Regions from separate parts of the Homo sapiens genome. Here region 2 is linked to region 1. Evidence: fine-mapped expression QTL. A gene starts in region 1. The other region holds a variant in brackets. All regions are shown on one strand. Distances are from middle to middle.

The links. PIP is the estimated chance that this variant, and not a neighbour inherited with it, causes the effect. A credible set is the group of variants that fine-mapping cannot tell apart.
Region 2: its variant is the best candidate, but not a certain one, in a credible set for the expression of LINC02893 in unexposed skin (GTEx, PIP 0.53).

Annotation. Positions count from the first base shown.
Region 1 is chr9:87,040,121-87,045,362 of GRCh38, reverse strand. It overlaps LINC02893 (long intergenic non-protein coding RNA 2893), which reads left to right and starts at 3,237. Exons shown (of 2, transcript NR_027471.1): 1 at 3,237-3,492.
Region 2 is chr9:86,988,837-86,994,078 of GRCh38, reverse strand. GAS1RR (GAS1 adjacent regulatory RNA) reads right to left here. Exons shown (of 7, transcript NR_049794.1): 5 at 5,173-5,242. Among named protein-coding and RNA genes, the nearest start is that of GAS1RR, 43 kb to the right of the region's middle. The variant A/G (reference allele first, on the strand shown) is at 2,283.

The DNA of each region.
Region 1 (5,242 bases):
TTTCTATTGATTGGAATAGTTTCAGAAGGAATGGTACCAGTTCCTCCTTGTACTTCTGGTAGAATTCAGCTGTGAATCCATCTGGTCCTGGACTCTTTTTGGTTGGTAAGCTATTGATTATTGCCACAATTTCAGATCCTGTTATTGGTCTATTCAGAGATTCAACTTCTTTCTGGTTTAGTCTTGGGAGAGTGTATGTGTCGAGGAATTTATCCATTTCTTCTAGATTTTCTAGTTTATTTGCGTAGAGGTGCTTGTAGTATTCTCTGATGGTAGTTTGTATTTCTGTGGGATCGGTGGTGATATCCCCTTTATCATTTTTTATTGCGTCTATTTGATTCTTCTCTCTTTTTTTCTTTATTAGTCTTGCTAGCGGTGTATCTATTTTGTTGATCCTTTCAAAAAACCAGCTCCTGGATTCATTAATTTTTTGAAGGGTTTTTTGTATCTCTATTTCCTTCAGTTCTGCTCTGATTTTAGTTATTTCTTGCCTTCTGCTAGCTTTTGAATGTGTTTGCTCTTGCTTTTCTAGTTCTTTTAATTGTGACGTTAGGGTGTCAATTTTGGATCTTTCCTGCTTTCTCTTGTGGGCATTTAGTGCTATAAATTTCCCTCTACACACTGCTTTGAATGTGTCCCAGAGATTCTGGTATGTTGTGTCTTTGTTCTCATTGGTTTCAAAGAACATATTTATTTCTGCCTTCATTTCGTTATGTACCCAGTAGTCATTCAGGAGCAGGTTGTTCAGTTTCCATGTAGTTGAGCAGTTTTGAGTGAGATTCTTAATCCTGAGTTCTAGTTTGATTGCACTGTGGTCTGAGAGATAGTTTGTTATAATTTCTGTTCTTTTACATTTGCTGAGGAGAGCTTTACTTCCAAGTATGTGGTCAATTTTGGAATAGGTGCGGTGTGGTGCTGAAAAAAATGTATATTCTGTTGATTTGGGGTGGAGAGTTCTGTAGATGTCTATTAGGACAGCTTGGTGCAGGGCTGAGTGCAATTCCTGGGTATCCTTGTTGACTTTCTGTCTCGTTGATCTGTCTAATGTTGACAGTGGGGTGTTAAAGTCTCCCATTATTAATGTGTGGGAGTCTAAGTCTCTTTGTAGGTCACTCAGGACTTGCTTTATGAATCTGGGTGCTCCTGTGTTGGGTGCATATATATTTAGTATAGTTAGCTCTTCTTGTTGAATTGATCCCTTTACCATTATGTAATGGCCTTCTTTGTCTCTTTTGATCTTTGTTGGTTTAAAGTCTGTTTTATCAGAGACTAGGATTGCAACCCCTGCCTTTTTTTGTTTTCCATTTGCTTGGTAGATTTTCCTCCACCCTTTTATTTTGAGCCTATGTGTGTCTCTGCACGTGAGATGGGTTTCCTGAATACAGCACACTGATGGGTTTTGACTCTTTATCCAATTTGCCAGTCTGTGTCTTTTAATTGGAGCATTTAGTCCATTTACATTTAAAGTTAATATTGTTATGTGTGAATTTGATTCTGTCATTATGATGTTAGCTGGTTATTTTGCTCGTTAGTTGATGCAGTTTCTTCCTAGTCTCGATGGTCTTTACATTTTGGCATGATTTTGCAGCAGCTGGTACCGGTTGTTCCTTTCCATGTTTAGCGCTTCCTTCAGGAGCTCTTTTAGGGCAGGCCTGGTGGTGACAAAATCTCTCAGCATTTGCTTGTCTGTAAAGTATTTTATTTCTCCTTCTCTTATGAAGCTTAGTTTGGCTGGATATGAAATTCTGGGTTGAAAATTGTTTTCTTTAAGAATGTTGAATATCGGCCCCCACTCTCTTCTGGCTTGTAGGGTTTCTGGCGAAAGATCCGCTGTTAGTCTGATGGGCTTCCCTTTGAGGGTAACCCGACCTTTCTCTCTGGCTGCCCTTAACATTTTTTCCTTCATTTCAACTTTGGTGAATCTGACAATTATGTGTCTTGGAGTTGCTCTTCTAGAGGAGTATCTTTGTGGCGTTCTCTGTATTTCCTGAATCTGAACGTTGGCCTGCCTTGCTAGATTGGGGAAGTTCTCCTGGATAATATCCTGCAGAGTGTTTTCCAACTTGGTTCCATTCTCCCCATCACTTTCAGGTACACCAATCAGACGTAGATTTGGTCTTTTCACATAGTCCCATATTTCTTGGAGGCTTTGCTCATTTCTTTTCATTCTTTTTTCTCTAAACTTCCCTTCTTGCTTCATTTCATTCATTTCATCTCCCATCGCTGATACCCTTTCTTCCAGTTGATCGTATCGGCTCCTGAGGCTTCTGCATTCTTCACGTAGTTCTCGAGCCTTGGTTTTCAGCTCCATCAGCTCCTTTAAGCACTTCTCTGTATTGGTTATTCTAGTTATACATTCTTCTAAATTTTTTTCAAAGTTTTCAACTTCTTTGCCTTTGGTTTGAATGTCCTCCCGTAGCTCAGAGTAATTTGATCGTCTGAAGCCTTCTTCTCTCAGCTCGTCAAAGTCATTCTCCGTCCAGCTTTGTTCCATTGCTGGTGAGGAACTGCGTTCCTTTGGAGGAGGAGAGGTGCTCTGCTTTTTAGAGTTTCCAGTTTTTCTGTTCTGTTTTTTCCCCATCTTTGTGGTTTTATCTACTTTTGGTCTTTGATGATGGTGATGTACAGATGGGTTTTTGGTGTGGATGTCTTTTCTGTTTGTTAGTTTTCCTTCTAACAGACAGTACCCTCAGCTGCGGGTCTGTGGGAGTACCCTGCCATGTGAGGTGTCAGTGTGCCCCTGTTGGGGGGTGCCTCCCAGTTAGGCTGCTCGGGGGTCAGGGGTCAGGCACCCACTTGAGGAGGCAGTCTGCCCCTTCTCAGATCTCCAGCTGCGTGCTGGGAGGACCACTGCTCTCTTCAAAGCTGTCAGACAGGGACATTTAAGTCTGCAGAGGTTACTGCTGTCTTTTTGTTTGTCTGTGCCCTGCCCCCAGAGGTGGAGCCTACAGAGGCAGGCAGGCCTCCTTGAGCTGTGGTGGGCTCCACCCAGTTCGAGCTTCCCGGCTGCTTTGTTTACCTAAGCAAGCCTGGGCAATGGCGGGCGCCCCTCCCCCAGCCTCGCTGCTGTCTTGCAGTTTGATCTCAGACTGCTGTGCTAGCAATCAGCGAGACTCCGTGGTTGTAGGACCCTCCGAGCCAGGTGCCGGATATAATCTCGTGGTGCGCCGTTTTTTAAGCCAGTCGGAAAAGCGCAGTATTCGGGTGGGAGTGGCCTGATTTTCCAGGTGTTGTCTGTCACCCCTTTCTCTGACTAGGAAAGGGAACTCCCTGACCCCTTGCTCTTCCCGAGTGAGGCAATGCCTCGCCCTGCTTCAGCTCGCGCACGGTGCGCGCACCCACTGACCTGCGCCCACTGTCTGGCACTCCCTAGTGAGATGAACCCGGTACCTCAGATGGAAATGCAGAAATCACCCGTCTTCTGCGTCGCTCACGCTGGGAGCTGTAGACCGGAGCTTATTCGGCCATCTTGGCTCCTCCGTTCCCTCTATGGTAATTCTTTTCTTTCTTCCTGTTGCGTTTCTCTGGCTACCTTTAATATTTCCTTTTTATCTTTGATTTTCAGCAGTTTGATCCTGAAGTATACTTGCACTTCGTATCCTTTTTCTTTTTCCTCTTCCTTTCCTCTTCGTTTCTTCGTCTTTCATGTTTATAAAGTTCTTTTTTCCTGGGTTTGTTTCAGTTTGAATAATTTCTCTCAAACTATTTTCAAATTTACTGATGTTTGCCCTCTTGGCAACGTACAGTCTGTGCATGGGCCCTAGAAAAAAACTTTTTTTACAAAAAACTCTGATTTGTTTTTTAATTTCTAGTGTCTCAATTGAGACTGTAAAAAATGCTATTCATCTCTGCTGAAATACCTCATTTGTTTAATTAATGTTTCATTCAACCCTTTAAAATTATGCTCTCTTCCCTGATGGTAGAATGCTGTGGTTTTTGTTGTTGTTATTGTTTTCATCATTTTTTAAATCTTTTTCCACTCTAAACTAAACTTTGTAAGGACAAGGACTTGGTGTAATTCGCTGTCATATTCCAAATACTCATTACTGTAGTAATGCTTTAACAAATTGTAATTGAGTGAACAAACGAACACACTGCCATGTTTACTGCCATGGTTTAAAGTGTTGCCACTTCCTGATAAAATGTACATTAGTATCTGTTTCTGTCCTATATCTCAAAAAAATTACTAAACATAACGATTTATGCCTAAATAAGATAATCTAGGCTAAAACATTCAGACTCTAAAAATCGAAAGTGAATGCGTTAAATATGAGCTAGGAGCAGTAATGAATGATCAAAATGTTTTAGAAAAGCATAAATACCAAAGTTCCCTACTGCAATGAACAACCATAGTTTCTGGTCATTAGTTTTAAAGACTGGAATTCATTGGAAGGCAACTGATAGCTCATAGAACTGATAGGAAACTAGCAAATAGAAATTAAGGAATAGGTGAGAATGAGGCTGCTCTGGGAGTCCAAGGACCCAATCACTTTGTAAGAGGCCTGGTCAGACCAAGACACTGCTATTGACATAAGACTCCTGCATAAATAGACTCCACCACTGACTCCCTGGAAGCCACTGTCCCTAGCCGCTGATTGTTTTGGCTCATCCCTTTTGGTCTTCAGCAGTGGTAGGCAAAGTATAACAGCCACTATTGGTGGCCTGCCACTATTCCCTCCTCTCATTTCACTGCAAGCCTCCACACTTTCTATTGTCAGCACCTGCACCCCTTAGCCTGAGGGAGCCCTCAACCAAGGGTATTTGTATTAGTCAGGGCTATCCAGAGAAGCCAAACCAAAAGGCTGTGTGTGTGTGTGTGTGTGTGTGTATGTGAAGACAGAGACAGACAGAGAGAAGAGATATTTTAGTAAGTTGGTTCACAGGATTTCACAAATCCGAAATCTGTGGGGCAGGCTGGAGATCCAGGATAGAGCTGACATTTCAGCTTGAGCCTGGAAGCAGTCTGCAGGCAGTCAATTTCTCTTAAGTCCTTAGCAACTCACTGGGTAAAGCCCAGTGACATTATGGAGGGTAATCTGCTGTATTCAAAATCTAGTGATTTAAACATTAGTCATATCTAAAAATATACCTGCACAGCAATATCTAGACTGGTGTTTAACCAAACATGTGGGCACCATAGTCTAGTCAAGTTGACATGTAACATTAACCATCACAGTGTTAATGTTTAAGTTCCCCAGCTTCCTCATCCTTCTGGTGTGGAAACCCTGAGAGTTGTGTTATA
Region 2 (5,242 bases), 51 kb after region 1:
TCCATGTGGCAAATGACAGGATTTCCTTCTTTTTTAAGCATTAAGCCAACCCCCTTTTTAAGGCTGAATAATATTCCATTGTATGTATGTATCACATTTTCTTTGTCTATTTATCTGTTCATGGACATTTAAGTTGTTTCTGTGTCTTTGCTATTGTAAATAATACCATAATGAATATGAGTGTGCAGACAGCTCTTGGAGAATTTGGTTTCAGTTTTGCAGGGTATATACCAAGAAGAGGGATTGCTGGATCATCTGGTAGTTCTTTTTTTAAGTTTTTGAGGAACTGCTCTGTTTTCCACTGTGGCTATATCAATTTATAGTTCCAGAAAAAGGTGTACAAGAGTTTCCTTTTCCCTATTTTTTTGATAATAGCCATCCAAAAGGTGTGAGGTATTACTTCATTGTGGTTTTAATTTGCATTTCCCTTATAATTAATAATATTGAGTACTTTTTTATATATTTGTTTAAGATTATTTATGTTTTTTTACAAAGTGTCTATTTGGGTCTTCTGCCCATTTTAAAAGTCAGATTGTTTTTCTGCTATTGAGTTGTAGAACTAACTCATATATTTTAAATATTAACTTTTAATCAGATGTATGATTTGCAAATATTTTCTCCCATTCCACAGGTTGCCTCTTCATTCTGTTGTTTCCTTTGCTGTGCAGCAGCTTTTTAGGTTGATGTAGTCCCATTTATTTATTTTTGCTTTTGTTGCCTGTGCTTTTGGTGTCATATTCAGGAAATTATTACTAAGGTCAATATGAAGAATCTAGAAATTTGTATTTATTTAACTTTTGAACAAAGTTAATGTGTTACATATTCAAAAAATAAATAAAAACCATGAAAATTTCTATTTTAAAACATGCTATTTAAAAAGGTAATGCCAGAAGAAAAGATAATACTTTAAAGTGACTTCTGAAGAGAATAAATACAAGTAATATATGAGAATCTGCCATTTTTTTCAAAAGCTTTTAGCTTTTGACTTGTAAAACTGTGCATATGTGTTTTTACATCAAAAACACAAAATTAAAAACTTCTCCAAGAAATTGAAGAAAAAAGATTATAGAGTTAGTGAGAAAGAGAGCTATATATATTACCAAAAGGAGAAAACAAAACAGAGAGTGAGAAAGTAATCAAAGTTATAATAGAAAAAAAATGTATTGAACTAAAAGCAGGGGTGTCCAATCTTTTGGCTTCCCTGGACCATACTGGAAGAAGAATTGTCTTGGGCCATACATAAAATACACTAATACTAATGATAGCTGATAAACTAAAAAAAAAAAAAAGGGCCAAAAAATCATTTATGTTGGGCTGCATTTGAAGCTGTCCTGTGGGCTGCAGGTTGGACAAATTTGAACTAAAGCATTTGTGTTGTTAAAGCAAATAGGCTCACTGAATATGAGGCAAAATAAATAAAGACAGACATGGAGACAAATCCTTTGGAAACATATTTTTGAGAGGATATAGCAAAAGATTTCATACTGGCAAAAGATTCTCCTCTACAATACTAAATCGTAGCTATTGCTTTTTCCTGTTTCCATCTTCAGCACCAGAATATCTTTCTTTTTTTTTTTGAATGGAGTCTCGTTCTGTCTCCCAGGCTGAGTGCAGTGGCGCGTTCTCACCTCACTGCAACCTCTGTCTCCTTGGTTCAGGCAATTCTCCTGCTTTAGCCTCCCGTGTAGCTGGGACTAAAGGCATGTGCCACCACACCCAGCTAATTATTTTGTATTTTTAGTAGAGACGGAGTTTCACCATGTTGCTCAGGCTCATCTTGAACTCTTGACCTCAAATGATCTGCCCGCCTCAGCCTCCCAAAGTGCTGGGATTACAGGCTTGAGCCACCGCACCCGGCCAGCACCAGCAATATCTTAATGGCAAGCATTTATGGTTGCTAAGATCCAGGCACAGTGCTTAGGGTTTGCATGTGATTTTTCCTTGAATCTTCAGGACCATGCCATGAGATGGGAATTTAAGTATCAGAAATGCTAAATAACTTACTCAAGGACGCAAAGCCAAGAGCTGAACTGATGCATTCTGACTAGATGATCAATATTCCTTATCACTGAACTCTATAGGAATAAAAAAATAAGGTTGTAGTTTACAACCCCAACTGCAAATTAGAATCTCCTAGAAAGATTTTTAAAATCTTGCTTCACTAATGGTGAGTCTGGCTTAACTTGTCTGAGGAAAGAGTGTGGATATTAAATTTATCGAATAACATTTAAATTCTAGTGTGAAGCCAAATTTGACAGCCACTACATCAGAGCAAAACCTAG[A/G]GAGTTTTGAGGATAAAAAATGTGCTCTAAGCAGGATTAAAGTAAGGTGAATGAAGTCCTGAGGTGCAAAATTTTAATGAACACCCAAAAATTCAGTAATCAGGAGAAACAATATTTACTGCAATTTTTAAAAATAAGAATTAAATGAAATGTAATGAATTATAATTCATGCTGGATGAAATACTAAAATTTTAAATTGGGGAGATCTGATGTTGCACCTGTATGACTCACCCCACCCTAATCTTGCCTTGTCAAACTCTATTTCAAATTTTTATATTTTGTCTATCATAGATTTTAGCATAATTTTTATTTTTTAAAATACTTCATTAAAGTATTCTGTCTCTTGATATTTTAGGTTTGTGTTTGTTTGATTTTGGCTTTCTGACATGAAGAATAGGGAAAAGTACATCCACTCCATCTTTCTGGGTGTCCTAAGAGTTTTACATCTAATGAAACAGTCAAGTGAAAGCAAGTGAAAGTCATCCTCAGAAATTAAAGTCTTCAAGTAGAGTTTCACATATATACTCTTCTTTCAAACATTGCTCAAAGGGCCAAGCATGGTGACTCACACCTGTAATCTAATCTCAGCACTTTGGGAGGCCAACATGAGTGGATCACTTGAGGCCAGGAGTTCGAGACCAGCCTGGCCAACACAGCGAAACCCCATCTCTACTAAAAATAAAAATTAGCCGGTTATGGTTGTGCGTGCCTATAATACCAACTACTTGGGAGACTGAGGCAGGAGAATCGGTTGAACCGGGAAGGCAGAAGTTTCAGTGAGCCAAGATCGTGCCATTGCACTCCAGCCTGGGTAACAGAGTGAGACTCTGTCTCAAAGAAACAAAACAAAACAAAAGAAACAAAAAAAATTGTTCAAAGAAATACTATAACATATTCAAGAATGAGGAAGGCGTAGTATTTTCATCAAAGATGAACAATGAAATCAGAAAACTACAAATAAGTCTAAATAATTATTGTTAATGTGAATATTAAGCATAATGCAAATATCAACAATAAGTCTTAAAATAGAAGACATATACTATAAAAAAATACTGTGTATCTAAAATTCTAATATATAAAAAATTGAAAAGAAATATAGAAAAAGCAGAAATAAAAATATATTAAATGTATTACCTTTCAGAGAGGAAATGGAGCGATTCTACTTTGTTCTTTGCAATTTGCTTTTTTCAAGTGAAACTCACGTAATGTAAAATTAGCCATCTTACAGTGAACAATTCAGTGGCATTTAGTACATTGAGAATATTGTGCAACCACCACTTCTATCTAATTCTAAAACATTTCATCACCCCAAAAGGAAACCCTATACCCATTAAGCAATTGTCCTATTCTCCTTTCTCCCAGCCCTTGGTAACCATCAATCTGAATTCTATCTCTATGGATTTACTCATTCTGAACATTTCATGTAAATGGAATTATGCCATACTTTTGTGTCTGGCTTCCTTTACTTAGCAGAATGTTTTCAAGGTTTTTCATGTTGTAGCACACATCGGTAAAACATTATTTTTATGATTGAATAAAATTCCATTGTATGCATAACGACATTTTATTCATCCATTCATTGATGGACAATTGGGCTGTTTTTACCCTTTGAGTATTGTTAATAGTGCTGCTATGATCATGTGTGTACATGTATTTCTTTGAGTCTCCATTTTCCAATTCTTAGAATAAAACATAGGAATCTTGGATTTAACAATGATTCTTAGATGTGATACTAAAAGCACAAGCAAAAAAGAAGATGAATAAATGGACTTAATAAAAAATAAAAACTTTTGTGCATCAAAGGACATTGTCAAGAAAGTGAAAAGACAACCCACAGAATGGGAGAAAATATTTGCAAATTATGATTTGATAAGGGTCTAGTATCCAAAATACATACAGAACTCTTACAATTCAACAGCAAAAAAAAAAAACACCCAATTTTTTAAATGGCAAATGACTTGAAGAAACACTTCTTCAAATAAGCTATACAAGCAGCCAACAAGCACTTGAAAAGATGCTCAACATCATTAGTCATTAAGGAAATACAAATCAAAACCACAATGAGGTACCCCTTCACACCCACTAGGATAGCTATTAACCAAAAAGGAAAATAACAAGTGTTGGTGAAGATGTGGAGAAACTAGAGTCCTCATATATTGCTGGTTGGAATAGAGAATGGTTCAGGCACTTTGGGACAGTCTGGCAGTTCTCAAAAGAAATAAACATATTAAGTTTGTATCCTAGCAACATCCCCTTTCAAGGTACCAGTTTCTGCAGTAGGTATGGCCAGCTAAGTTGCAATGAGAAAGGGTTGTTGTGCTAATACAGATGAAAGAGCATGGTGGCTTAGACTAGAGTTTTAGCAATAGAAATGACAGGACATGGTCAGATTCCAGATGGAACTGAGACACAGAATCAACAGGACAGACTGATACATGACATATGGGGGGACTGGGAAAATTGGTAAATAACCTTCCAGGTTTTTGGTCTGCATAACTGGGTGAGTTGGTGAGGGGTAGGGGGGGACACATTTTCTGAAATAGGAACATTTGACATTTGACCTGAATGAAATACAAAAGACGAAAAGCAAGTATTTCTGGGAAGAATGTAGCAAAAAGAAGAAACAGTAAGTGCAGAGACTTGAGGAATGAAATGAGCTTGGCTAATTTGTGGAACGAAAAGAAGGTTAATGTGGCTATGCTGAGAGTTGGGGGTTTTCTTGCCACTGAAAAAAGATCACTTCAGTTTGCCCTCTTTAAAATGATAAGAATTACTGATCGTTTTAATTAAGTACAGTACTAATTACTGTACATGGTATACCCAAAACAGGATGAGATATTATCAACTTTAAAACTTGCTGAAATTGATTTGTAATTTTAAAAAAACATACCTTTAGTTATGAGGTAGATGATTTTAAATTATTTTCTGAAAAGTTCAACAGTTCTAAATCATTTTGTGTA